Linked DNA regions of Homo sapiens: region 1 is linked to region 2. The links come from fine-mapping of genetic effects on gene expression. A gene starts in region 2. The other region holds a variant in brackets. All regions are shown on one strand. Distances are from middle to middle.

Region 1 (14,796 bases), 340 kb before region 2:
GAACAGGAGCCACGGGACACTTTCTGCCTCCGGCTGCCGGCGGGTAACTCGGGCCTGGATGGACTTCCCTGCCAGCTTGTTTCCCAAATTGCCGCGCGGGCCCAGAAAAGAGATGAGAGCATAAACCCCTAGGGGGCGCAGTCCCCAGGATCCCTGTCTTCATGGAGTGGGGCTCATGGGGTCAGGGCTTGGGTCAACTCCACTCCATAGCACGAAATGACTTCCTGGAGTCACGTGCGTGGGGGAGGCTTAGCCCCTGAAGGAGAGCCACCTCTCTTCAGTGACTGATTGACTGTGCACGTGAAATATTTTATTTTTTCTATTTACTCTCACAGATTTGGGTTTTCCCTCCTCTCATCCTTCTCTCCCAGCCACACTCAGGCCTGGGGCTCCATTCTGCTGCCCACAAGGTACGAAGTGGGTTAGAAGCAGCAAGGGGACCCACAGGCAAAAATACTCCTGGGAGACAGTGGCGAGGGGCACATGTTCCCCGGGGCTACTAGGAAGTGGCCCCAGATAACGTCTCAGCTGATGACAGACTTTTAATCACTAAAAGGTAAACACTAATGTGCAGGAATCCTGTTTGTTTGCTCACAGATGTACCTGACACACAGTAAGTGCTCAGTAAATGTTTGTAGAGTGACTGAATGTTTGCTGGACCTCCTGCCCCTCATTCTACACAGAGAAAAGCTAGGCTGACAAAGGTGAAATGATTTGTTGAAGGTCAATGGAAACCTAGGGCTAAGCCGGGACAAAAACCAAGGTCCACTGATGCTTCCTGGGCCCTAGAGTCTTGAGGAGGTGCAGCTCCCTGTTCTGCCCCCAAGACTGGCCTCAGTCCTGCCTCTCCCCCTCCCCAACCTAACCCTGGCGGCAAGGCGGGGCTCCCCTCGGGCCCAGCCTCCTCGCCATCCCTGGGACCCCGCACACTCACAGGTGGCAGTCTGTGGGTCTCTGCTTCTCTCTCCTCCTCTTCCCCCTGCCCTTGGGTCTCCTCCTGCAATAAGCCAAGCGTCAGGACAAGGTGGCTGGGGAACCCCATGCTAGGACAGAGGCTGGCAGGCCCGAGAATAGCCCCGAGCCCCAGCCAAACCACTTACCTTTCCGGCTTCATCTTCTCCCGCAGAGGCCTAGGGAAACAGACAGAGAGAGGGGCAGAGGAACGTTAGGAAAGCAATAAGTGGGGCTCCCTGCCGCCCGGACAGGTCCCCTCCGACATCCCCAGTCCTGGTCCTGCAGCTGACACTGAGGCCACTAGGGGGTAGCATGGAGTTGGCAAGGGAGAGGTGGCCAGAGCCTCAAGGCTTCACTCCCACTCCAGGCTCTGGTGACCCCACCACGAGAGGGACAAATCAACCTCCTGGGGACCCCTGCCACCCGCTTCTGCACTTCTCAGCCTCTTGGCATCAAATTTGGTTGTTTCTGTCTGTTCTCTGTTGCTTTTTCTTTCTCACTTTCTTTGCTGCTTTTTTCCGTTCCTTCCAGGGTGCATTCTGGGAATTTCCTCAGGGACAGGAGATGATGGCCAGACAGCGGACTGGCTGCCTGTCAGGGCACAGCCCCACTCCATCCGGAACAACATGGGGAGTGAGCGACGGGGTGGGAGGAAGGAGGGAGCATCAGCCCTGAAGTCACCAGGCATGTCTGGGCTCTGCCTCCCAGGGCTGTGGCTGTTGGCCCAGAAGCAAGAAGAAAGGTGTCCCTGTTGCCTGGCCCCTGGCAGGGGATAGGGCCTCAGTCTTCACTGGGAACAGTGGGTAGAGACATGGGACAGCATGGTAGCAGTCAGCTTTGGGGCCAGGACATGCTACCCTCAGCTGGTTCCTCCCTTGGGAGCCAGGGCAAGGTACCAGGGCCTCTTGGGACTGTCTGGTTGTACCTCTCCATATTGGGCAAGTGACAGACACTCTTGGAACCTCAGTCTCTTCATCTGCCTGCCCCAAAAGAGTGGCTGTCAGGGCAAAGGGGATGGAGAAGGTGACTCTGGGTCACCACCCAGCATTGCACCCAGGAGGGTTCATTACCGAGCTCTTGTTATATGGCTAAGCTCTGGCTTGGAGGGATGGGTGGAAACAAGTTGAGGCAGGGTCTCCAACACTCCAACAAAAGGGGCAGCCATAGCCCTGCCCAGGAGGCAAGGCTAAGCCTGGGGGCTATTAGAAAAGTGGTCATGGCCATGAAAGGTAGCCTGAAAAACGAAGGCTTACGAGTTAGGTCAGGGCCCAGAATCCCTCCTCCCACACTCACTAGCTGTGATAAATCATGAAACTGTATTGAGCCTTGATTTTCTCATCTGTAAAATGGGGATGACAATAGGGCCTACCTCCCAGGGTTGTTATGAGAGCAGGAACCTTGCTCACCACTGCATCCCATCAGGACAATGCCTGGCATGTGGTAGGTGCTCAATAAATGTATGTGACTAAATGAGAAACATTCAAGTGCCTCCTGCGGGGCTAGGCACAGAATAGGTACACAATAAGTGGTAGTCTTCCCTCCTGCCGCCCCTGGCTAGGGCTCTGGACTTCTAGTCTGGTGCCTTCATCCATGGCCCAGTAGTACCAGGAGCAGCAGCTCAGCCCATTTCTCTCTTCCCTGAACCTAGCTGGCAGTGCCAGGCCTGTTGCTCCTGCTAACCAATGTTCCAAGTGCCCCCAGCACAGGCAGCAAGACTGGTGCTGGTCAGAGGCTCTGTGGATTGGGAGGGGCCGTAGAGGGGTGCTGCAACATCAAGGAAGCCACAGTGTCACTCTTCTTCTGCCCCTTTTCTCCTACCCGAGCTTGTCCTTCTTGCTGCTTCTCAGCCCCGTTTGCCCGCTCCTGTGGGCACACAGCTTGCCCCAGAACGAAGTTCAGACTTGCAATGTCTTTGCCTCCAGGCACCTCTTTCAGAGGCCCGTGGCAGCTGCCTCCCATCCCAGAGAAGGGGAACGACACGCACCGAACCCCTGCGAGGCTGGGAGGGACCCACCCTCTCTCTTCCCTTGCAGTATCTCAACAGCTGTACCCCAGCTGCTGGGACCAGCTCCCTTGGCAAAACTGGCTGGTGGGGGGACAAAATGAATGGTAGCCACCCCTGGTCCTGCCCTCTTGGTCTCCCTCAGTCTGGAAAAAAGTTCAGCCCGCAGCGGGGATGGGCAGCCTTTGCCTCTGCCCTGGGACCCATCTTTGCTGAGGCTGCCAAGAGGACGGGGGCCTTTCCTTGCTACCCACCCGACCCCGGAGACCTACCGGCATTCGCAGCGAACGTGCTGAGAGAACGTCAGCTCCACGTAGGAGGGCCGGTCCCCAGAACGGATCTTTAGGAGCTGAAGGAAGAAAGAGTTGATGCCTGGATTGGGGAGTGGCCCACGAGTTTCCGGCACTCTTCTCTCTCTCCTTGTAAGGAGAACCCGACTCTGTTTCCTGCTAGCCTGTGGACTACAGGCCCTCACTCCACTCTGAACGTGGGGCAAACAGCTCTCTCAGCTGCATGGGGATCTGAGGGAGGCCCCTGTCCCTCCCTGCCCGGGAGCACTAGCACAGCAATAGCACAGGAAGGGGGCTCATGTTCTGGAGTCAGAGAGACCCGTGTTCAGATCTTGACTCTTTTACCTGCTGAACAAGTGAAATAACATCTCTGAACCTTGAGTTCCCCATCCGTGAAATGGGAATGACACCAGCCTTGAAGGATTGAATGACACACCACTTGTGGCACGCCTAGGACAGTGCTTGGCATTACTCAGTAAGTGCTCAGTAAACCACTGCGTGTGTGACATGTAAGCTGCACTTGCTTGAAAAGGGACCAAATGCTCCTGGTGTCAACAGGGACTTTATACAAGCAGATTTCTTTCCAGCTTTAACTAGACACCCTGAGTCTTGGGATAGGACTCAGCGTGAGGCTGAGAATGCTGGTGGGGGTGGAGATGAGTGGGCTCAGAGCCATCGGAGGGCTTAGGAAGAAGAGGCCCTGGGCTGGGGTGGTAGGAGCACTGGCCTGGGAGTCAGGCTCCAGCCCTGGGACCTGGGCCTATCTTCTTCCCTCTCCAGGTACCTTCTAGTGGGCAGATTCGGTGGCCCCCTGGGCAGGGTATGGACCTACCTGCATGGTGACATTGGCCGTCTCCACCGGCACACAGTGCAGATTCTCATCGCCGCAGCAGCCGGTGCAGCGCAGCAGGGAGACACAGGATGGGCTGAACATGTGCTCCACCTCGCTGGGGTACTCGGACACGACGTCCACCAGCCTCTCCAGCGCCCGGCAGTAGCTGCGGCCCCACACTTCCTGGAAGGGTACCACTGCGAGGAAGCAAGGGGGCTGGGTCAGGCCAGCAGAGACCTGCCCCTTGAAGCCCTAAACCTGGCTCCCAAGGCCCTGCTGGCCTTCCAGGTTCAGCCCCCAGCCCCATCCGAGCTCCCTCAACTCTGAACTCCTAATGTGATCCCTCCGAAATGCCTGCGGGCCCCTTAGCTCATCTGCTGGATGGAAATCCCCATGGAACAGAATCTCTCAGGGTCCCAAGCTTTGCTCTGTCCTCAACTCAGGCACCCACGTCTGCCTTGGCTCCCTGGAGCTTTGAGGATTGTAGCCCCGGCAGCTACCCAGGCCCTCTGGATCTTTCTCAAGCCTGACCCGGTGCTTCCTCCAACTTGGAGAACTTGCAGAAAACAGTCATTCCTGGAGTCATGCAGGGAGGGTTGGCCTTCCCTTATTCCTCTGCTCAAACACCTTCCACGGCTCCCTCATTTCCTGCCCCACTCTGTGCCAGCTCCTCTGCCTGGCAACCAAGACCACATCCAGCAATGTGGCCCGACCCTCCTCTCCACTGAGTCCAACCAGCGCTCACACTGAGCCACGGCAGCACCACATTCACTCCCAGCTCTGGCTTGTGCACTCTGCAGCCCGTACAGCTGCTCTTCTTCCCCCTCCTCTCATTTCTATCCAAATAAAGTCCACCCGCCATTTTCCACGACCTGCCTCCCCACCTCCTCTTTGAAGACTTCCCCAGCAATTCCAGTGCACACAGATGAGCCTCCCTTGAGCACTGCTTGGCCTCTGGCCTCAAGGGGTTGCCTTATCTCCGGCACTGCTTGCTCTTATCTCCTTTACAACCAACTCGAGGCTCCATGAGGGCAGAGATGGACGTACCCGTAAACACAGGCTAAGTCACTCCTGGTTGATTAGATGACATTTCACTGAGGATCATCCGGGTCATCCCTGACCTCACGATGTCCTGGCGATCGTGAATGGGATCTTTTGGGGGCTGATCTGGAATCCCTCAAAAGATGCTGCTCTTTCGGGGGAAGGCCTAGGACCAGGCCCCAAATAGAGGCTCACAGGGAGAGTGGCCAGAGTCAGACACCTGGCTTCCAGTCCTGGCCCTACACTGGCTATGTGACCTTGGGGAGATCACTTAACCTTTCTGGATAGATCAGTTTCCTCAGGTGGGAAAAAAGAAGGTTGGGAATAAATGGTTGCTAAGGTCTTTCCCTCTCTGACCAACCGCCTGTGAATCAGTGCCTGCAACCCAGCCCAGCCCAGAGACCATGGACAGAGAAACACCCCCAGGCCTGGGTCATCCTGCTCTGCATCTGATGGTCATCCTCAGCTAGTGGGGAAGAATGGGGAGCTGGGGGTCCTGCAGCCTCTGCCATGGAACAATGGCCTCTCCCAGCAACCCCTCATTTCTTCCATGCCTCTGCCTAGGAGGCAGAAGGGGCCAAAGTCCATTCCACTGAGCCTATGAGGACATGAGCCTCCTGGTAATCTCGGAAGAAAAATAAACTTCAGTCCTAGCAGAGGCCCTCGGGAAAGGCTGCAAACTGGTGGAAAATACCCAGAGGCGGTGTGTCCATGTGGAGCTGGCTAGGCAGTCATAGAGGCAATAAACAGTGTTATCTGCTTGTTTGCTGCTCCATTCTGCTCCATTCTGCCGTGCTCTGCTTAGAGGGCACTAGGGCCTAGGGGCTGGTGGTGGGGGGAATCCATAGGCCTCCTCTGACTCTACCACTCCGCGCCACTGGATACTGCCCCGGAACCCAGTGGGAAACAAGGCCTCTCTCCCCAAAGGCGCCCAAAGTGCAGGGAAGCCTGCCTTTGCAATCCTGGGTCAGAGAGCACCTCCCTATCACCAGCTCCTTGAGCTGTGTGTTTAGTTTAAAATCTTCATGAGCACTACGTGACTCTGAACGTTTAATCTCCACCTTGGAAAACATAAATAACAGCAGAGGAATAATGAGCTGCCAAAGCACCACAGAAGACTCAGGTTCCTGCCCTGGGACCAGCCGTCAGCGAGGGGACAGCAGCAGAGAAGGGGCACCCCAGCCCCCTCCATCCTGCAAACAGACACCCACCCAGCTGGGCTGCGGGGCCATGGCCACCTTTGGCAGAACTGGCTGGGCCTCGGCAGCAGAAGAAGGGATTTCCTTTCCTCACCCCACATCCCACCATGCAGGTTCCGGGTCCCTGAAACCCTGGAATCTGCCACTTTCCCAGCCCTGTGGCCGAACTGTGTTGGGGGAGGGCTGAGAAGGAGGTGGGCTGGAGCCTGGTTTACCTGGCAGCCACCAGGAAAGGGCAATTCATCCCTGAAGGCCCCGCTATGGGTGTGTGGGAGAAACAAAAGGGGCTGGGTGAGGGGCCGGGCTGAGGGAGTACAGTGACCGCTCCCAGATGTGGGCTGTGTCCCTCAGGAAAGAGCTCTGCTCAGCTGTCCCCGAGAGCACTTC[C/T]GCTGGCCCCAGACCTGCTCCGGGAGGGGGTGGAGGTGAGAGCAACGGGAAGCTGTGGCCCCCTCAGGGCCCCCTCAGGCACTGCCAGGGCTGGGTGGTCCCCAGGGCTGCTCCTGAGGCTGCAAGTGTGCCCTCAGCTCTCTCGCCAGCCCTGTGAGTGAGCCTCCCACCTGCCTACCTACCACCTGGGATGGGGGAGACCCCAGGAGAGAAATGCTTAATCCTGAGAGCAAGTTTCTGTGGAGGGCACTGGAGACGGGCCACAGGGCTGGGCAGAGCCACTGGCCACCAGCCCAAGCCCACAAGTGTCCTCTCCATGGTCACTGGCAGGGCACACAGACAGCCTGCCACAAGGGACACCCTGCTCATGCCCGCTCAGCCACGGAGCTATTGGGAGCACTTGGTTCTGCCAGATCCATGAGGAGTGTCTGAGGCTTGGGGCGACCCCCAGGGCCTCTCTGAGCCTCAGGGCCTGCCTGCATCTGTAAAAATGGAGTACAACCCCTTCCTACTTCACAGCCTGTGGTCAAAACAGAATGACAGAAAATGCCTAACATTGTTACCGTGAATAGTAATAGTAAAAATCAATGCCCATGGCTGGCCATGCTGTCTCTGGCTGTGGTGTTAACAGGTGGGGATGCCATTTTCAGATTTTGAGAGCTGGGGTGCAAAGCTCGTTGTACTTCTCCCGGTCAGATTGCAGACTCCCTGATTGATAAGTGTGACAGGAGAGCTGACCTAATGAATCTACACTTCCAGGCCTCCCCACCTCAAATCCTGGGTGATATGTACACCCATTTCTCCTCCCTGGAGTCAGAGGACAAGTCCCTTTTTCAATCTCGGAAAAAGAAGAAACCATAGACATCATGTAGCCAAGGCTCCCATTTTACAGATGAGAAAACTGAGGCTAAGGCATCTTTGGTAGCTGTGGCCTGACCTACACTAAAAGCACCAAAAAGGGCATAGTGTGGAGGTAGGGGATGGGTCCTTCCCCAAATCCCAAGGAGCATAATGTTGTGCTGGTTCCAGAGGCACAGCAAGGGAGGCATCCATGAGGTCAAGGGCAGCTACCTCCTCTACCTGCTCAGGGGTCTAGGGGCCTAAGCCTTAGGTGTCAGAGTATGGCCAGGCCCGGGAGAGGCGGGCTGCCAGGCAGGCAGCCCAGCAGAGGGTGTTCCCAGCACGCAGATGGCTATCACGCGTGTGCGTGTGCATGTCCCTACATGCCCACTCTCCCATGGCGCAGGGGAAACCTCAGCGGTGGTGTGTGGCCACTTTGCACGTCTTGGAGAGGCAGGGAGGGAGGAGCGAGGTAGGGGGCCTGGCATGGGCCTCCTGCCTTCTGTACATATGTCTCTTTGGCAAACGTCTCGTTGCCCTTTGAAGACTCCCTCTTGATGCAACCAGGGCGGGGAGTGGAGGGGCCAGGGAGGGCGCGACTATGTTCTGTCTGTTTATAATCAATGGAAACGCATGGTCAGATCCCGGCAGTTCCACCAGGGCTGGGCTGCTGGGGAGGGCCCCTCACCCATTCCTGATCCTCTTGACTGCCCACTGCATTCAGCTCCCAGACCCCCATTCTGGCCCCTGGCACTCACTCCCCACCCTGTCCTCCAAGACCCCATCCATACCCTTAAATCATGCTGGGGAAGGGCTCTGAGCCAGCTGGATGAACCCTGGCTATACTGGCCCCAGCCCCACTCTCCGTGTGCTGGTGACTCCAGCCCACACCTCTCTAGTCTCTGGGTCACCATGAGGGGATCTCTTAGGCCCTGCCAAAGTCATCACCCAGCATGTCTAGCTTGTAGGCTCTCCCCAGCTTTTATCAACCTGCACCCACGCTTCATGCCACACCTGGGCTTGGGAGAAAGGAAGAGAGGGGCTTGGGGAGCATGCGTACCCCCAGCCTGGCCAGCTTACCTTCCACCTCTGACGAGCCGTTCCCAGCAGACAAGGCCCACTGCTATGGACAGAAAAGTGCAGAGGTGAGCTGGGGGTACCTTGGAGCTCTGCACTCTTGGGCCAAGTGTGATGGCAAGAAGGTAGGGGCCCCTCTGGGTTCCTTCCCACTTGCTGCACATGCTCTGCCCTGTCTCAGAGCAGCCTGAGTACCACTAAAAACTCACTGGACCCTGGGTAGGTTAGGTCCCACCCCTCTCTGGCCTCAGTTTTCCTCATTTGGAAAAGGATGGGAGGCTAGAAGCTTTTGGAGACCCTTGGCCTGCTGCATCCCAAAGATCTTCCAATCCTGCGGGTCTGCCTTCTACCCAGCCCCCAGGCCAACCCTGCTGGGCCCTGCACAGCCCGCCTTGGCTGGGTGCCAGAGCCCAGGGGGAGGTGATCAGCTGGTGGGAGCTGAGGGGCTGGAGCGGGTGGCGCCATGAGCTGGTGCAGCCGGTAACGTTACACCTCTGGCCAGCCCTGCAGCAGGCAGGCGGGTGGCTGGGCTGCTCGGACTCCTCAGGGACTGCCCAGCCCACTCCTACTCTTGGGCTGGGGCTGGGGACTCCCAGGGCAGTGGGACAACGCAGTGGGAAGGCAGTTCATTGGCTTTGTCAGGATTTCACTGCCCAAGCTGGCTCCCAGCCAGACTCACCCGGCTCCTGGGAAAAGGGCCCTGCTCACTTCCCCAGGCCCTGCACTCAGGACCTCCGGCCACCCACCCAGGAGAAAAGGCACAGCGAGACCCCTTGTCTCGTCCCCAGCCCACCCAGGAGCCCACGGCTCAGTCCTGAGCCCTGGTGGGGGCAGGGCCAGCCTCCCCACCAACAGCTTCTTCAGCTGGCTCCTCCGCCACCCCCACCAGGCCAGGTCAGAGGTCCTGGGGACGCCTGGTTGGCCATGGGGCCTCGACCCTGACCACAAGGCCAGGGACCCGCCTGGGATTAGTGGACAGATGCTTTTAGCAAAGCCACCAGGGCTCCAGGGGCCAGACAGGAAACCTCCCTCCCTCCCTCCCTCCCTGTGGCTTCCCTGCCCCCACCAAGACAGCCCCCAGGACCTGGGGGACAGCCAGCCTGAGGTCTCTTCCCAAACGAAAGAAGTCCAGCCTGGCCTTTAGGAAGTGTGTGGACATCCTTGGAGTTGCTGCTCCCTGGAGTGGGTCTGTGATTTCAGAGTCCCATGCTTCCAGTGCTGGGATGGGGAGGTCTGGGGAGCCAGGCTAGGTGGGGGTAGCTCTTACCTGGGGGGGCACAGCAGGCAGCGCCAGCCCGGCCAGGAGCTGCAGGAAGCAAGGGAACAGCCTCATGACCGGCATCTTCTCAGACGTCCCGAGCCAGGGGGCTCCGAGGGAAAACCACCATGCTCATCCCCCGGGGAGCCCCTGGCACAGGAGGAGAAGAGCTGAGTGGGGGGCTGGACGCCTCCCTCACTGCTGCCCCGAGGCCCCGGCCGGTGGTTCGAGCATCTTCTGGAAGCCTTGCGGAGTCAGGAGCCCGTAGGTAAGGCTGTGGCTGGGGAACCCGACGGGGAGCGGCCCGGCGGGGCGGGGCGCCGAGGGGCAGGCGGGTCCCGGGGATGGTCCGTCGGGCGCCCAGTGCCACTCCAGGTCCTCCCGTAGCTGGGCGGCCGTCCGTCGATGCAGTTTCCTCCGCAGACAGCAGCTCCCTTCTGAGACTGCAGCCGGTCCGCGCCTGGGTTTCAGGGACTGAGCCGGGGCGGGGCTCCGGGCCGGCCCCGCCCACCGCAGACGAGGTTCCCGAGCCGAGTTCCCGGAGCGCCCGGTCAGCCCGCAGCGCCCGGCCAGCCCGCAGCGCCGGAGCCCGCAGTGCGTGCGAGGGGCTCTCGGCAGGTCCAGACGCCTCGCCGAGCCCAGCCCGCAGCTCCCCGGGCCGCGCCGCGCCCGCCCACAGGGCCCACAGCCCTGCTTCGGCTCTCAGGGCGGTCACCTGGGATGGGGGCATCCAGGAGTCCAGCGTCAGCCGTCAAGGCTCATGATCTAACCGCCTCTGCAGGAAGGGCCGTCCGGGATGCCTGGGAAGGCAGCCATGCCCACACCCCTAGGGGGCCAAGGGATTCCTAGCCAGGTTATATAGATGAAGAAACCGAGGCTCCGAGAGCACCCCTGCCTGCATATGTCGAATGGACATAGGCATTCTTGGAAAGTGTGTGTGTGTTGTGTGTGTGCGCGCATCTGTGTGTCCGAGGAACTGGCAGAGACAAAACCCAAGCCTACGTGACTCCAGAACTCTAACCCGACCTACCACCCTCCTAGCCAGGCACGGACACAGTGGGCCTCCCACAGGAAACCTCTCAGGGCACCTGGCTGGAGGATCAGGCCTGTTGCCTCCTTGGGAAGCAGTCTTCCCAGGCCCTCCCTGCGGGGCAGCCCCCTGTGGTAGAGAGTGGTCTCACTCAGGCATCTCCTCCTGGTCCCTGGCCGAGGAGGAACTGTACGCTGCGCGGGGGTCTGTGTGCATCTGCGCGTGTGCATGGGCATTTGCGGGTCTGTGAATATCCATGAGCGGTGCATCTGAGCCTCTGTGTGGTCTGAGTACGTGTGACTACTGTACCTCCAAATACGCCTCTGTGTGGGGGTCAGGTCTCTCTGTATCTCTGTATGCTTGTGTGATCTGTTCGTGTCCGCTGTGTATCTGGGTGTGTTTGGAAGTGTCTGAATGTGTATCTTTCGGTGGGACTGTGAGTCTGCACGCCTGCCTGTCTCTGCGTGTGTGTGTCTGTCTCTGTGGGTGAAGACTGTGCCTCTCTCTCTGCGTTTGTGTGTGCCCTCCCTTGGTTCTGGATCTTTCTTTACCACCACTCCTCTCACTGCCTTCTGTGTCCAGCTCCCAGGCTGCAGGAACCTGGCAGGACTGGGAGTCACGAGTTGGCTGGGCCTGGGGCTGGTGGGTGGCTGTGGGGGAGGAGCGAGGCCTGGGAAGTGGCCCCTACAGCTCACATTCCAGCCAAGAGCAGGGAGGCCAGGGCAGCCCCAGCTCTCACCCCAGTGACCTCTGCGTCCACTGCCTGCCTGCCTGCCCACCCACGAGGGGCTGCCAGAGATGCAGCCTGCCTGCCTGGCCGGCCCTAAGCCTGGAGGTTCAGGAGGCGGGGGCCAGTCACCAGCTGGCTAAGCGGGGTCTGCAAGGAACATCCTGACGAGCTTCAAACAAGCTGGGGTTCGTGGGGTAGACAAACTGCTTCCTGGGCCCAGAATCATTGTGGAGGGTCACTGTGCATGTGTGTGAGGGTGAGTAGGTGTGTGTTTGTGCATATATGTATTGTATATGTTGCCCATAACATCTTTGTATACATACACGTGTTTGTGTGTGTCTTTAGTTTGGGTATGGATTTGTGTATGTGGGCACAGGTGTGTATTGTGCACAAGTGTGTGCGCGTGTGCTTAAGTATCTTCATTGTATATGCTTGTCTATAACTGAGTGTTTCTAGCACTTATGCATGGGATGTGTCTATTGTGTATGAGTTTGTATTTTTTTTTTTTTTTTCTGAGACAGAGTCTTGCTCTGTCGCCTAGGCTGGTAGACAGTGGCGCAATCTCGGCTCACTGCAACATCTGCCTCATGGGTTCAAGCGATTCTTGTGCCTCAGCCTCCCAAGTAGCTGGGATTGCAGGTGTACACCACCATGCCTGGCTAATTTTTGTATTTTTAGTAGAGACAGGTTTTTGTCATGTTGGCCAGACTGGTCGAGAACTCCTGGTCTCAAGTGATCCACCCACCTCAGTCTCCCAAAGTGCTGGGATTACAGGTGTGAGCCACCGCGCCCAGCCTGTATTCATTAATTTGTTTTTTCATTTGGCATGTATTGCCTGAGCCCTGCTATGCTCCAGGAACTGCTCTAGGTGCTAGGGATATGATATGGAGGGTCTCTCTGAGTTTACATTCATGGAGTAGGGGGATACCGATGGCTGGGGATGCCGAAGTTCTCTTTCCTGAGTGAACTCAACACCTTGGGCGAAGTCTGTGGTTCCCACAAGTGCACCTCAGTCCTTCATCACTAAATTGGGGACCATACCCTTCTAAACCCAGCTTCCTGGGCTGTGAGATGAATTAGCCTAGGGTAGGCTCAGCGGCAGAGACCAAGGAGACTCTAACATTTCCATGGATTGAATCAAAGTTTGTTCTTGCTCACATCCAGTCCAGAGCAGCTGTGCTAGTAATTCTGCTCCCTTGTTTTTTTTTTAAATTTTTGTAATTTTAATTTTAATTTTTAGAAACGAGGTCTTGCTCTCTCTCCCAGGCTACAGTGCACTGGTGTAGCACTGGCTATAGCTCACTGCAGCCTCCAATTCCTGGGCTCAAGGGATCCTCCCGCCTCAGCCTCCAGAATAACTGGGTCTACAGGTGTGTGCTACCATGCCCAGTTAATTTAAAAACTTTTTTTTTTTGGGGGTAAAGACAGGGTCTTGCCATCTTGCCCAGGCTGTGCTCCTTTGTACACTGGCCCCACTATTGACCAGCCACATCGCCTCAAGCAGCTTCCTTTGCTTTCAGAGCCCCAGCTTCCTCCATCTGTAGGAGTGGGAATGATAACAGTACTTACCTCATAGGGTTGTGCGAGGACTGAGAAAGCACCTTTGGTGCAAAGAATGGTAGCAATTGATCACGATTTCTAATTTAATTTTTGACTTGTATTAGAGAAATAAAAATACTACAGTTAGACCAGGTGCAGTGGCTCACGCCTGTAATCCCAACACTTTGGGAGGCCAAGAAGGACAGATCACCTGAGATTAGGAGTTCGAGACCCGCCTGGCAAACATGGTAAAACCCCGTCTCTACTTAAAATACAAAAATTAACTGGGCGTGGTGGGAGGCACCTGTAATCCTAGCTACTCGGGAGGCTGAGGCAGGAGAATCACTTGAACTCAGGAGGCAGAGGTTTCAGTGAGCCGAGATCGTGCCACTGCACTCCAGTCTGGACGACAGAGTAGAACTCCATCTCAAAAAAACAAACCAAAACAAACAAACAAAAAACAAACTACAGTTACAGAGCAGAGTCCTGTAGCATGGACATGAGATAGAAAATAAAGAATCTTATGCTTCTGCCTGTGGCAGTGGAGAAAGAAAATGGAGCGATTTGCATAGGTGCACACAAACACTAATTCTCACCATCACAGTGCAGGCTCTCAATCCTCAACTGTCACTGAGGCCCTTGAAGTAGACCCAGGTGCTTAGGGGGTGGCAGTCAGTGCCCACAACTCAACACTTAACTGTTTATCACCACAATCTCTTGCTGTTGTTTCAGGGAGAGAAGTAATATTTATTGAACATCTATTATATGCCAAACAGTGTGCTTGGTGCTCTAACCACCTTGACTCATTGAATTCTGATCACATTGTAGTGGTAGGTTTTAATTATTTCCATTTTGAAGATGGAAAGATGGAGGCCCAGGGAGTTTATGTAATTTTCCAATAGTCGTTTAGCTACTTAAAAAGGAACAGTGATGGGGATCAAGCCGAGATCTTTCTCCAAAGGTCTTTCCAGTGAACCTAAGCGCTAGCTCCCAACCTTACTGCAAGGACGTTGAAGGTGAGGGCTGATGTCTTGAGCCGTTTCTGGGTCTTCCCCATGCTGGAGCAGAATGGATGCTTGACAGACTTGGGATGGTTGATGTGTGGAAGGAAGGAGCCCTGATTTCAGGAGCTGACTCTTATGCGGGGAGTCGGGCAGATACAGATAAACATGAGGGGTTGGGTGTGGAAACACTGGGCCATGACAATGCAGTGGACCCTGAGCAGTCATGGCTTCCAGTCTGCAGGCCAGCCCCTGGCCCCCAAGGCATCCTGCAAACACAGTTTCCCATATTATTAGTCATCGTGTTAGCCTGAAACACCTGCCCCAACCCATCCCAGCTTGTAGGCTTTCAGCTTCCTGACTCACTTCCCCATTTTCTAGCCATTTTCCCATTTTCTAGCCTCTTTGTTGTCTTGGCCCTATGAACTTTTCCCCAGTGATGACTTGTCCTCTCTTAACGACAATTCAGCACCTGCCTCTGGAGAGGTGTCTCAAGTGGTCCTGGGTAAACACCCTCTGCTTCTGACCTTGTTCCTGAGTCCCGGACTTGGGTGGCTGAGAAGTGTAGCATCCAAGGATTATCTTCCCCTTCATGACTGGTAGAAAGGGAAACAGT
Region 2 (14,796 bases):
GACAAGCGTGAAACTCTGTCTCAAAAAAACAAAAAACAAACAAAAAAGAAAACAACTACCAGAGGGCACCACTATTCAACATTGCTAAAGACATATACATATAATTGAAGGGGATAGAGGCAGAAGTCATTTCCTCATGGGGATTATGTCCAGTTTAGCTCACCAGGATCCCCAGAACTGGCTCAGTGCCTGGCACATGGTACAAGGTTAATTAATATTTTGCCCAGTGGATGAATAAATTCTGTGCTATTTCCATACACAGAAATATATTCCACACATATTCTTTAACTTCTCCTCTCCTGGTCCCTGTTAGTATATTAAGCAATGGGAATTTTACATCTTTTATGTCTGGCTGCAAAAATATACCCCATTCCCATCCTTGCCTCCTGGAATTCCTTCACTGTCTTCCTGGATGACCTCTGCCAATTCAACTTCAAAGCTGCCATTGGGCTTCTGGCTCCAAATTAATTTTCAATGGGAAGAGGGAAGAGGAAAAATATTTATCTCTGTAGAATAGTGGATTGTAGATTCTGCATCATCTTTGCACATCACTGCATCTTGTGTAATTATCAAAATTAAAGGGTAGGATTTAACAATTTGTTCTAATAACAGTAATTTTGTATCAACAGCAATTCCCATGTGTGAATGAAAGTAAATCAATTATGCTATCTTTAATTAACGGACAAAAAAAAATTGAGGCACAGTAAAAGTTCTCAGTTGATTATCTTGAGGTAATCGTCTAAAGTTTCAATGTTTTTACAGTTGAAAAAAAGCTAAAACAAAATTGATCTCTAAATGGTGTATGAGACTCATTCCAAACAGAGTAACCAAACTCCTCAAAAAAAAAAAAAAAAAAAAAAAAAGAGATATGAGCCTCACTTGAATGCTGAATAGCAGAATGCTTTAAATTGTGCTGTTTTCCTATTAATATTAAAGAGTTGACTTTTAGGAAGTCTCACTCAGGGTCCCCTGTCTCTCTACTGAAGAGAGAGTTATTCTCCTTTCTCTTTCTTTTGCTTATTAAACCTCTACTCCTAAACACCACCCCTCCACCAAAAAAAAAAAAAAAAGTTGACTTTTAATTCCTCTCCCACTCTATCTCTTTTCCTTCTTCCCTACAGGCACTCTGCTCACGAGCCTTCCTTCCACTCCTGGCACATAGAACACGTACTCCTGCAGCAGGGCCTCTGCACTTGCAGTCCCTCTGCCGGGGCCTCTTGCCCCAGGCTGGCGGCATCCTGTCATTTGGGACTCTGCTCAAAGGACATGTCCTCCAAGGGGCTTTCCCTGGTCATTCTATCTAGGGTGACTTCGGGACATACTTGCTCCCTAGGACTCTCTATTTAGTTATCCTGCTTTGTTTTTTCACAGCCTGTATCCCTACTTGCAATATCTAATTTATGTGTTATTTTCCTTTTAAAAAATTGTCTGTCTCATCGGGTGCAGTAGCTCACGCCTGTAATCCCAGCACTTTGGGAGACCTAGGTGGGCGGATTACCTGAGGTCAAGAGTTCGAGACCAGCCTGGCCAACATGGCAAAACCCTGTCTCTACTAAAAATGCAAAAATTAGCTGGGGGTGGGTGGTGTGCACCTGTAATCCCAGCTACTCAGGAGGCTTAGGCAGGAGAATCGCTTGAACCCAGGAGGTGTAGGTTGCAGTGAGCCAAGATCGTGCCAATGCACTCTAACCTGGGTGACAGAGCAAGACCCTGTCTCAAAAAAAAAAGAAAATTGTCTGTCTCTTATCCCTGAACTGTAAGTTCCATGTGAGCGGGAACCTTTTCTGTCTTGATCACATTTGTATCTCTAGTGTCTATTAGGCCCTCAAGTGCATGTTGAATAAAGAAGATGAATGAGTGAATGAATGCAGATGAAAATTACAAAAATATTGACAGGGACATAGCTAGAACTTAAAGTGAAGATAAACTATATACTTCACAGATTTTTTTCAGGGTAGAAGAGTATGCCCATTTGTTTAAAAAAATTGCCTTCGAGGATTCTACAATATTAAGATGAGGAGCTAGCTAGCTTGGGAAAGAATTTTAAGGGGTACAAAAAATACAAGTAAGCTGTAGGTCAGTGACACTTCTAGGCTAATTATAGGTTGAGAAATTGTTTCGCTATTAAATGCAGAATGAATGCATATATAAATTTAGATATAATCATTTTCAAAGAAACAAACAAAATTATGTTTTTCACTCTTACTGCTATAAAACTTTCAGACTATCACAAAAATCCCATTTGAGTTCAATGGTTCCTAGCAATCAGTGTGCTAAATGGTAAAACCTATAATTTAGTCTGCATTAAAATAGAAGAATAAGGGTTAGCTACTATCATTATTATCACATCAACATCATCATCATAATTATCATTTGCCAAGAATATGCCCAGACCTGAGGAGAAGCAGGTAGAAATAGGGTACATTGAATCCTGAGGAATCAGTGCAAAGTCTCTGAAGGGGGATGGTTGGATAGATTTCCATTTCCTTTGCATGCGGGAGAAAGCAACAGAAACGTAAACCAGTTCCGTTGCAACACAATTTATTTTCGTGGTTCCACACATCTATTTTTGGACTAAACTAAGTTGCCTTTCCTTTGCCCAAGCATTCTTCAGTTGCTTAAGAGGACACAGAGCAGTAAGGGCTCTGGAGCCTGCCTGGCCTTATGGCCATCAGCTCTCCATTTTTTTTTTTCTGAGACGGAGTCTCACTCTGTCACCCAGGCTGGCTCACTGCAACCTCTGCCTCCTGAGTTCAAGCGATTGTCCTGCCTCACTCCCGTCTCAGCCACCAGAGTAGCTGGGATTCCAGGCAACTGCTATCATGCCTGGCTAATTTTTGTATTGTTGTAGAGATGGGGTTTCACCATGTTGCCCAGGTTGGTCTCCAACTGCTGACCTCAGGTGATCCGCCGGTCTCAGCCTCCCAAAGTGCTGGGATTACAGGCATGAGCCACCGAGCCCAGCCAGCTCTTCTTAATAAGCCCTTTTCCCTTTCAGCTCAAGGTGATTGGGTTTGGTACAGTCAGGTGACTGGGAGGGCTGGGAACCCGCACGGGTTTAATTGTTGGTTATGTTAGAAGCAGACCCATACAAAGGGGCCCCTATTAAAGGGTCTAGACTGAGCAAAACGAAATACCTTCGTGCTAAATGTAAGTGACCCAGTCTCCAGTTGCCGCCATGCTTACTTTGGGGAACAATTTTTGGTCAAATCTATGGAAGCAATGATTTGTTTTTAGGCTTTTTGTCAGTGATGTGACTATCATCACAGCTAAATTTATCAAAACAATATAATATATTGATCTAAATTTGGGGAATTGGATCCAATGTATGTATGTATGTATGTATTTATGTATTGAGACAGTATCTCATTCTGTCATCCAGGCTGGAGTGCAGTGGCACAATCTCGGCTCATTGCAACCTCTGCCTCCTGGATTCAAGCGGTTCTCCTGCCTCAGCCTCCTGAGTAGCTGGTATTACAGGCGCATGCCACCATGCCTGGTGACTTTTTGTAATTTTAGTAGAGATGGGGTTTCACCATGTTTCCCAGGCTGGTCTCGAACTCCTGACCTCAAATGATCCGTCTGCCTTGGGCTCCCAAAGTGCTGGGATTACAGGCGTGAGCCACCGCACCCAGGCAAGAATTGGATCCAATTTAGCAGAGTGGTCCAAAGCATAGACTTAGCCCTGAATCCTCACTCCTAGACTTTGGGTAAGTTATTTAACCTCTCTGCTCCTTAGTTTTCCCTCCTGTAAGATGGGGATAATAATTGTATCCACTTCTTGGGGTTGTTGTGGACATTAAATAAGTTGGTATGTATAGACTGAATATCACAGCATCTGGGCACACAGAAGTATGATAGAAGGGTTAGTTGTTTTTGGCTGGGCACAGTGGCTCACGCCGGTAATCCCAGCACTTTGGGACGCCGAGGTGGGTGGATCACCTGAGGTCAGGAGTTCAAGACCGGCCTGGCCAACATGTTGAAACTCCATCTCTACTAAAAATACAAAAATTAGCTGGGCGTGGTGGTGGGACCTGTAATCCCAGCTACTTGGGAGGCTGAGGCAGGAGAGTTGCTTGCGCCTGGGAGGCAGAGGTTGCAGTGAGCTGAGATGGCGCCATTGCACTCCAGCCTGGGCAACAAGAGCGAAACTCCATCTCAGAAAAAAAAAAATAAAAAAAAGAAGAAATGTTAGCTGCTTTTATTATCTTTATAGTTTAGGGAGATGGGGGTCAGGGGAACATGTATGGGCTTCATTTCATTTAATAAAAAGTTTCTGGGTGTCTGCTATGTATCAGGTATTGAATTCAGTGTGAGGAAGAGACAATCCTGTCCTCAAAGAGCTCAAGTAAGGGAGAAAGACAGGTAAACACAAACCTTATAATACACTGTAACAATGGAAATTAACACCAGGTTCAGGAGTTACATGGAAGAGGTAGTGACAAACTCTCTCTGGGGGAGTCTCTGAGGAAGGTGACCTTTCAGCTAGGCTTCGAAGGTGTATGGAGCTTGCTAGATGAGCAAGTGGCAGGGTAGAGAGCTTCTGGGCTGAGGATTAGCACTGCAAGGGCACAGACTCATAAAACACTGAATTTGGTTTTGCTCAACTACAAAGTGTGTGAGGGGGCAGTGAGGGGGAGATGATGAGGAGGAGATGTAAATTACAGAACATCACGCAAGTGCATTTAATTTCACTTATATCAATATTGCATCATCAAATAGATGGGGCTGAAGATCAGCCAAGAAGAGATCACTGTGACCAGATCATGAAAAGCCTGGTGCTTACTTAGCTCAGTTATGTGTAGGCTGAACCAAGGCAGTGGTGGTGGGAATGGAGAGGGAACAAGAGGTAATTAGGGGGTCAGGACCTGGTGATTGAGTAGGTGGTGGAGGTGAGGGAGAGGGAGGAACCCAAGCTCACCGTCAGGTTTACCAGGCTTGAAACACGGGAGGCTTGTGTTTCCACCAATGGCTTTGTGACTATAGGAAGAGGAACAGGTTTGGGGGTTAAAAAGGTAAATTCTATGTTGGACATGTTGAGTTTGCAATGCCTGGGGAGTATCTATGGGGAGATGTGGGCAGTTGGAACCACAGCAGAGGTTCTATGATATGAGTTTATAGAGCTTGTCTGGAGGCAAATGGTTGGGATAGAACCTGGAGCCTTAAGAGAAAATATTGATAATGCCCAGTATTTCACATGTGCTTGCTCTGTGCCAGGTTGTGCTATGCACTTTATAGGCCATGCTAAATCAATGACTTTGGTTTGCTAATCATTGTACCTCTAGCAACTGGCACGTAATGGGCATACAATAATTATTTTGTTTAATAAATGCTCTCATTTAGTCCTCACAACAATCCTATGAGGCAGATATGATTAGTGTCATTTTACAGATAAGGAAAACAATTTAGGAAAGGTTAAATAAGCTGACCAAGGTCACACAACTGGTAAGTAGCAGATCTAAGATTTGAATCCAGCTCTTTGTGACTCTAAAACCCAAAGTGCTTAACTGCATTGCTAGAATGTGAACATCTGCTCTTAAAGATGTGCTTATGTGACCTGGGGTGAGATTTCAACCCCTCTGAGACTATTTCCTATGCCAGATTAGGGGTGGGATTCAAAAATCTCTAAGCTCCCTTTCCATCTTCAAAACTCTGATGACATCAGGAGACTGCTACGAAAATGCCCTAAAGTGCCCGCACCACATCATTCTTAGATGCTTGATGTTCTAGTAGCAACACTGGGGCATGCTCTGCAGTTGACACTCCTTGTAATCCTCTCACGGAACCTTTTTAAGATGGGAGGCCTGAGCAGTGTGTACAGAGCCACAGAAGTGTACCAAGCATGGGGAGGTGGGAGCAGTCTGTTCTAGGGATAGGCAATGAGAATGTATTTGGTTCTATTTCTGTATAACAATTTACCACAAACTTAGCAGCTTAAAGCAACACACATTTATTATCTCACAGTTTCTGAACATCAGGAGTCCAGGTATAGCCAGTTGCTTATCTAGCAAACTCCATCCATCTTCTGAACAGAACAGTGTTGTGTTCAAGGTCTCGCGAGGCTGCAATCAAGGTGTCAGCTGAGCTGTGTTTTCAGCTGGATGTTTGAGTGGGGAAGAGTCCACCTCCAAGCTCACTCAGGTTGTTCACAGACTGTATTTCCTTGTGGCTGTATAACTAAGAACTCTGGCATTTTGCTGGCTGTTGGCTGAGGCTACCCTTCGGTTCTAGAGGCTGCCTTGTAAACTTCTTCAACACAGCTGCTCACTTCATCAAGCCTGCGACAAGAACCTCTCCAGTGCATGCCAGCAAGATGGGGCCATACACAGACATAAAATTACGGGAGTGACATCCCATCACCTTTGCATTTTCTATTGCTAAGAGGCAAGTCTCAGGTTCCACCTGCACTCAGATGGAGGGAATTACACAAAGGCATGGACATCAGGAAGCAGGAATCACTGTGGGTCACTCTAGGATTTGTTATCCACAAGGGATCACATTATCTGCTTAGAATTTCAAACGAATAATAAAACCAAAAAAAGTTGGTCTGCCTTTTAAAAATTTTCCCTTATTTAAAACTTTATTCTTAATAAAGAAAAATGAGAAAACCCCAAAACTTTCTTCTTTAATTGGCAACCTTCAAAAAAGATATTCACAACAGGACTCAGAGCAAGGGCAGAGATCCCCAAAGAGATGGTTTTTCCTTAATTCATCAGGCTGGAGCAGAGTTTAAACCAAGCTGGAACCACTCCGGCTCTGGCCACAACCTAATCTCTACATCCTGGCCTCCATCACATTGGCCGGAAGCTGGTTCGCTTCATCCAAGGGTCTAGTTTGAGGGCATTCATGGCTTCTGCAAGTTTGAGCATCCCTTGCTCCTGGTGCTGGCAGTGCCACTCAGCCATGGACTGGAGCATCCACTTGGTTTGGAGCTTGTACCAATAGGAGCTGTAAACCACGACCTCGGTGAGGTCTGAAGACTCCAGAGCCTTCAGCTGGAGCATGGCCTTGCTCATCTGCTCGATGTAAGGGATTATCCATACGGGCCTGCTGGGGGAAGGGGATGAGAGCTCCCAGGTAGGGCACCCAGGCCAGCACTGGGCACACTCACCAAAGGTGGCTTCCAGCAGCCGCGTCGGGACCTAGAACACCTCTGGGCCTTTCAGGTCTTTGGGCAGTCTGCCTTTTAAATAAACACTATGAGCTGGCAATTCTAATGTTGTCAGTGACAAAGTACTTCTTCCTGAAAAAATCTTTGGTTGTTTTAAGTCCTAAACAGTTGCTGGGATTACTATTGAGTTTGAATAATGTAATATGTACGCTTCATTTTAAAAAATTACTTAAAAAACAGAGATAACACAATGACTGTGAAGACTGAATTTGAGTTGCTTCTGTTCCATGTAACCATTTGGAGTTTTCGTGTTTAAAATTTAAAATTGCGAAGCAGTGTGATACAGTGTTTTGCCATGTTTTTATTTGACAAATGCACATTTTAGTTAATAACTAAATATTTTTACTAGATTTGAATATTATCTTTAAAATAGATAATTCCTTTTGCTTATTTATTTTTGAGAGAGGGTCTCCCTGTCACTCAGGCTGGAGTGCAGTGACTGCAATCAAGGCTCACTGCAGCCTTGACTGCCCTGGCCCAAGATCTTCCCACCTCAGCCTCCCAAGTAGCTGGGATCACAGGTGTGCACCACCATGCCCAGCTATTTTTTTTTATTTTTGTAGAGTCGGGGTCTCCTTATGTTGCCCAGGCTGGTCTAGAACTCCTAGGTTCAAGTGATCCTCCTGCCTTGGCCTCCCAAAGTGCTGGGATTACAGGCGTGGGCCACAGCGCCCGGCCCCCTTTTATTTTAAATCTAAAGAAGACTCGAGAAAAAAAACATTACGTCAGTAGTAGATTTAGGAGATGCACTACTAATACTACGTAAGTTTCTCTTGTGCTGCCTGGGAATAAAAATAAACACTTAACACTAACTTGGGGCTCACAACATGCTTGACACTGTTCCAAACACACACACACACACACACACACACACACACACACACACTCATTTTAAAAGTCCTCATCTACTCTTAAAGGTAGGTCCTGCTATTATCCTTATTTTTGTAGATAATAATATAGTCTGGGGCGCAGAGGTCTGCTCAAGATCATCCAACTGGAGTGGCAGCGCTGGAATTAGAGTCCAGGCAGTGTGGCTTCAATGCCTGAACTCTTAGCCATTAGAAAGGAAAAACAAAGCAAAATCAGTATCCGCAACAACCTTGCAGGCACGGAGGCCCTCAGAAGGGACAGGAGAGGCCGGGCGCGGTAATCCCAGCACTTTGGGAGGCCGAGGCGGGCGGATCACCTGAGGTCAGGAGTTGGAGACCAACCTGGCCAACGTGGTGAAATCCTGTCTCTACTAAAAATGTAAAAAATTAGCCGGGTACGGTGGCGCGCGCCTGTAGTTCCAGCTACTTGGGAGCCTGGGGCGGGAGAATCGCTTGAACCGGGAGGCAGAGGTTGCAGTGAGCAGAGATCGCGCCAGTGCACTCCAGCCTGGGCGATAGAGCGTGACTCCATCTCAAAAAAAAAAAAAAAAAAAAAAAAAAAAACAAAGGAAAAGAAAAAGAAGGGACAGGAGGGCCTCCTTCCGCTCCTGACCAGCCCCTGCTGGCCCGTGGGCAGAGGGAGAGCCGGCTTCCAGGGACCTCAGGGAGGGACGTTTGGGAGTGCTCTCTCAGCGTCCCCTCCACCGCCCTCTCTACACCCTTGCCGCGCCCCTGTCCTCGTCGGCCAGGCCAAGGTTTCTCCTGGCCCTTCCCAGCTTCCGGCCCTTTGCTCCAGGGCAGGTCGCAGGGCCAGACGGTGCCAGGAGCTCGCGAGTCCTCTGTTTACTGTTTGGTTTCCACGGTGACACGTAGGCGCCGTCAGCGACTCCCGTCACCGCCCCGCAGCGCGGCCCCCACCCGGCGCCGTGACGCCGGCCCGCCGCTTCCGCTCTGCCCATATTTGGCTCAGCCACTGCGCCGCCGGCCCGGGGTAGGCTGTGGGCGGGACTCCCGCCGCGCCCCGCCCCCGGTCCCTGCCCCGCCCCTGGAATGCTGGGCGAAGGCTCCGAGCCACGAGACCCCCGCCTCCTGTCCCGGGACCCACCCAGGCGGAGGCAAGGGCAGGGGCGCTGGGGGCCCAGAGAGAGGGCGCCGCGATGGATGAATGAGCTGTTTCCAGCATTCCTGTGCGTCTGCTGGTTGTAGCTGCAGTCAAGATTTGGGGCGGTCTCGTTTGTTGTGGGTGGGTGATCTGGGATCACGATTTTCTCACTCTGTGCCCGGAAATCATGCCATCTCTCGCCCAACGCTGTATTTTATAGGCTTCAACTCAAAATTTTCCTTCATGGCACAGTGGAAAGCTTTGAAGACGGCGGTTCTGGGGTCAGTGTTGCCCCTCGGGGGATAAGTGACCTTGGGAAGGCCATTTTCCTTTTCCTGGCATGATAAAACGAACCGTGGGGGTGGTCCATAATGGTTGCAGCACTGTCATCAGGCTTGTGAGGGGAGCTTTTCCATCACCCTCTAACCACCCCCTCCCCAGGACATAACTGGAATATCAGTGAAGTTCTTTGAGCATCGACCCCCTACAGTTCTGCCCCCTGTGGTGATTGGATTTGTGTGTCTCTGCACCTTGCTCCTATTAGGCGCTTAATGAACTTTAGTTAACTGATTATTGAATGAATAATACGAATCACCTTCATAAATCCGGACCCCTGCAATTCCTCTTCCAGGCCGGGCGAGGGGGAGGGTAGGGGATGGGGGAGAATATTGAGATGATTAATAATCGCGCGGCAGGGTTGCTGATGTAAAGCGATTTGCAGATCTAAAGGGCAATAAGCATTCCTGGGAGAAATCCAGCGAGATTCCAGAAGTCTCTGAGGGAGCCGTGGGTGTGTACCGCCGGGCCCAGAGGGCGGGGGTGGGGCAGGCAGTGCCGCAGTGGCCGCTGCTGGGGAGCCGATTGCAATTGCGAGGAGAAGCGTGGGGTTAATCCTTCAAGACGCCTGTCACCATCCTCCCACCCCCATCCCTGCCCCCTAGATTCCCCAGTTCCTCTGGCTGAAGGAGTGTGTGTTTTCCAGAGTTTCAGAGCTGGAAGTCACATCGGAGACTTTTAATCTAATTTAACCTATTTCGCCAACAGGGAAATTAAAGCTCAGAGAAGTTGGTTCGACCATCCAAACTTGCACAGCTAGTTAGAAACTGATAAAAGTCAGGATATCTAGCTTCAAATAGTGTTCCACATCGCCTAGGTGCTTCTAATTTCCTGTGCTTCAGAACCCTGTTGCCTGGCTCAGCTGGTGGGTTGTACATTTAGGCTAAATATTGACTTCAGGGCTCTTAAAGAACGCCATTGTCACGTCTGCTGCCACACGCAGCCCACACCATGACACCAGGGCCTGGGGGGGATGGCCAAGAATTGTGTACTTCCTAAAGCCTCAAGCATTCCTCCTTAGAGCAGCTGGAATGGTCACCCCTGTCCAGGGAACAGGAGTCGGCTGTTCTGAAACCAGTCTTAGTCTAGCAGTTGGTCACTTTTCATAGTTACCCAAGCCTTGCATTAAACTTTTCTCAGCCAAGATTACAGCAGGAGGCAGGAGTAGCCCTAACCCTTTTCTGCTGTTTGGAAGTCTTTTCATGGCACATGGAGGGTTCCTTGCTGGGGGTGGGGAAGAGTGCCTCTTCAATGCTTCTCTCTTTCTCTTTCCCCTTTCAGTCTCACCCAACTTCCTCTTACACGCTGTTTCTTCCCTAACTTCTAGGCTGAATATGAAGGCAACTCGGACTAAGAAGACGACTGCTTTCCAACTGCCCTCCCGTCCTGCAGCCGCCTGATTTGAGGAAGGGGCTGGGATCCTTCCCCTTGCCCTCTGGTTGTTCTTGGAGTTACAGCAGCCCCGCGGCAGCTCTGCCCCCTAGTGCACATGTGAGGCAGCGCGCCCTTCTCCAATCCAGAAGCCTCGTCGCGGTGCTGCCAGCAAGGGAGTTTTTCTGTATTCACTTTGGTGGAAATAGCAAAACTTGACAGAAAAAAAACCCAAGCCAAACCAAAACACACGAACCATTCTAGCCTTTTCTCTCTTTCGTTTCTTTCTGAGGATCTGGCCGATTTGGATGCAGAAAACATGCCTGTTGCTTCTGCTGCGAAATCTGCTCTTTCTCTTCCTGCTATCGGAACCCTGTCCCTTCTTTCAAAGCCTAATTCAGGCCAGGCGCGGTGGCTCACGCCTGTAATCCCAGCACTTTGGGAGGCCGAGACAGACGGATCACTTGAGGTCAAGAGTTTGAGACCAGCCTGGCCAAAATGGTGAAACCCTGTCTCTACTAAAAATACAAAAATTAGCTGGACATGGTAGCACACGCCTGTAATCCCAGCTACTCGGGAGGCTGAGGCAGGAGAATCACTTGAACCCGAGAGACGGAGGTTACAGTGAGCTGATATCAGGCCACTGCACTCCAGCCTGGGTGACAGAGTGAGACTCCATCTCAAAAAAAAAAAAAAAAAAGCCTATTTCAAATTCCACCCCTTGCCTAAAAACTTTTCCTGACTTCTGACTTTCCTCTCCTATGCGTCTTTTTTATTTTTTATTTTTGAGCTGGAGTCTCACTGTGTCACCCAGGCTGGAGTGCAGTGTCGCAATCTCCGCTCACTGCAACCTCCGCCTCTGGGGTTCAAGCAGTTCTGCCTCAGCCTCCCGAGTAGCTGGGATTACAGCCACCCGCCACCATGCCTGGCTGATTTTTTGTATTTTTAGTAGAGACGGGGTTTCATCATGTTTGTCAGGCTGGTCTCGAACTCCTAACCTCAAGTGATCCACCCGCCTTGGCCTCCCAAAGTGCTGGGATTACAGGCATGAGCCACCGCGCCCAGCCATCCTATATGTCTTTTGAAATATGGCTGTACACAGGCTCAGCACACAGTGTGCACTTATATACTGTATTTCTTTATTGGGGTCCAAGTCTGTGCATCTTTTGTGTTCACAGACCCCAGGGTGCCCAGCACAGGGCTGGGGACACAAACTGCTCTCAATAAGCCCCTGTTTATTAATTAATTGATTAGCTTCCACAGAAACAACTGAGGTTTTGCTTCAATAAACCTTGCAGAACTCTTAGTTCTTTAGGGACTCTGGATAGTGATCTAATCAAATATGGCCTTGCACAGTAAGTCATTTCACAAAGCAATTTCACAAGAGAACACTAACATCACCCAGAGTGGGATGAGGAAGTCTGAAATTTGAAGTGGACTCTCAGAAAGATGAGGAAGGTGGCGGTGCTGTAGACAGGTCAAAGGACAATGACTTAGGAGAGGTGGGTCTCTGCTTCTGGGATAGAAGACGCAGCACGGGCCCTAGAGTTAGCTTCATATCCAGACTCTACCACTTGCTGTATGTCCCTGGGCAAGTTTACTCTTCTCTCTGTGCCTCAGTTTTCTCCTCTGTAAAAAAAGGCCGGGCATGGTGGCTCCTGCCTGTAATCCCAGCACTTTGGGGGGCCAAGGTGGGCGGATCACCAGCGGTCAGGAGCTTGAGACGAGCCTGGACAACATGGTGAAAACCCATCTCTACTATAAATACAAAAATTAGCAAGGTGTGGTGGCACGCGCCTGTAGTCCCAGCTACTCTGGAGACTGAGGCAGGAAAAATCGCTTGAACTCAGGAGGCAGAGGTTGCAGTGAGCCAAGATCGCACCACTGCAGTCCAGCCTGGGTGACTGAGCAAGACTCCGTCTCCAAAAAAAAAAAAAAAAAAAAAAGTACCTATCTCATAGTGATACAATGAGGGTGAATTAGCTGGTATTTGTAAAGTGCTAAAGCAACACCTTGCACCTCGTAAGTACCATGTAACTGTTTGTAAATGAATTTTCCAGCTTAGCTGTCTTGTCATTGGAATGGGGATTGATTATATGTTCTCTTGGTTCCCTCGAGCAGTGACCTTTCAGGGCAGTGCATAAGCTTTGGGGTCAGGCAGGTCTGGGTTGACTCCTATCTTTGTCGGTAGTTGTGTGACTTTGCACAGATAACTTCTCGGAACCTCAGTGTTCTTATCTGTGAAATGGGAATAATTGTGTCTACTTCAAAAGACTGTTGTGGGTATTGCATGTTTGTAATGTGCCTGGCACAGAAGGAGTGTAATAAACAGAAGCTATAGTTATTATTGTGGACAAGAGCAGCCACATGTAAAGGAAAATAGAGTTTCCAAGGTCATTGAAGTTTCCAGAAAGACTGAACATATCAGATAGCAATGAGACCAGCTCAACTTGTGGAGCTTGGTGGGAGGGTGGGCCTGGGTCTGCGCCAGGAGTAAATATCACCCCATTTGAGGAAGCAGAAACGGTGTGACTTGCACATCAGCTCTAAGAACATTTTCTGCTCCAGGGCTGTGCTGAGGGCGTGGACCCACTGGGGCTGGATGCCAGGAGCTGGAGGCCTCTCCGGCTCTCCTTCCCAGGAGGGGAGATTTTAGTAGAGAGGGTGTGGGTGGGCCTTGGAAACCTCTTGTTGTGTGTGCGTGGGGTGCGGGGGAGTGTCAGAATGGCCCAGGGATATCTGGCCTTGGTAGGTGTACTCCCAGGCCTGGGGTGGCCTTCCTCATGGCAGAACCTGCCTTCACGGCTCCTCAAAGCTGCCATCCTTCACTCCAACTGAAGACACCCCTGACTGATTGCCTGCAATTATCCGAGGAGTGGGGGAAGGAGGGTTTTGGTAGTCTTGCAGCCAAATTAATCTTAATTCCCTTCAACTCGTGTGGAAAAGTACCCAACGAAATATGCAAATGCTGCATGTATTCCTTCAGTAAAGGGGAAGGAGGGTTGCAACATCAAACAATGATAGGGTGTCGCAATCCTAAACGTGTGAGGAATTACTCTTAAGGTCCTCGTACTTGACAGCTCCGGGCCCCCATGACACATGAGGAGTTTTGTGCTCCGAAACAGGCCAGGGCCAGGGTGTCTACCACGCTTACCACTAGCTGTGATTTGGGGGCCTCAAACACAGCCTGAGACCTGGCAAAACCATCTTAGGAACTGGGGATCACAGAGGACTCTGCAAACCTCCTTCTAAACTCATATTTCCAGTAATGGCAACAGGGTGGGCCCTTAATAGCTCCTGGAGCAGAAATTGAAGGTTGAGCTATCTTTAAAAAAAACATGGCAGGCGTGGTGGCTCATCCCAGCACTGTGGGAGGCTGAGGTGGGAGGATCACTTGAGGCCAGGAATTCAAGACCAACCTGGTCAACATAGTGAGACACCATCTCTTGAAAAAAAAAAAACAACATAGCTTATGAAGAGTCATGAAGGTGCTAATATTGGCTGTTCCTGGGTAGGAGGGAATGTGTTTTTATTTTCTTCTTTTTGCTTGTCTGTACTTTCTGATTGCCTTTTTTGGCAAGCACATATTGCTTTTGTAATAGGAAAAAAATATTTTCAAAACGTTCTCAGCAAAGTAGTATGTTTGTTTTTAAAATAGATGACAACATAATAAATGGGAAGTTTCCAACACCTCCTCACTTTTTAAAAAAAACTTTTCCCAAAAGAAATACATGCTCCTGGTAGAAACCTTTGAAAATTCAGATCATCAAAAAATAAAGAAAATAAAAATTGACTGTAATCCCATCACAGGAATAACCACTGTCAACATTTTTAATTCTACCTTTCCAATACACACACTAGTTTCATTTTTTATTTATTTTTTGGACAGAATATTGCTCTGTCACCCAGGCTGGAGTAGTGCAGTGGCACGGTCCTAGCTCACTGCA

What was found. PIP is the estimated chance that this variant, and not a neighbour inherited with it, causes the effect.
Region 1: its variant is fine-mapped to the expression of LINC01220 in whole blood (INTERVAL, PIP above 0.99).

The regions. Positions count from the first base shown.
Region 1 is chr14:74,945,279-74,960,074 of GRCh38, forward strand. It overlaps PGF (placental growth factor), which reads right to left and starts at 10,319. Exons shown (of 7, transcript NM_002632.6): 1 at 9,890-10,319; 2 at 8,626-8,668; 3 at 4,079-4,275; 4 at 3,229-3,305; 5 at 1,101-1,130; 6 at 935-997. The coding sequence starts at 9,964. LOC107984690 (a long non-coding RNA gene) reads left to right here. Exons shown (of 3, transcript XR_001750826.3): 2 at 1-3,721; 3 at 4,027-4,949. RefSeq lists silencers at 1,181-1,230, 10,116-10,185, 10,366-10,465. The variant C/T (reference allele first, on the strand shown) is at 6,706.
Region 2 is chr14:75,285,315-75,300,110 of GRCh38, forward strand. LINC01220 (long intergenic non-protein coding RNA 1220) reads left to right here and starts at 9,090. Exons shown (of 3, transcript NR_038421.1): 1 at 9,090-9,227; 2 at 9,363-9,423; 3 at 10,806-11,096. It also overlaps the pseudogene DPPA5P4. RefSeq lists silencers at 3,831-4,015, 8,868-9,327 and an enhancer at 8,658-8,797.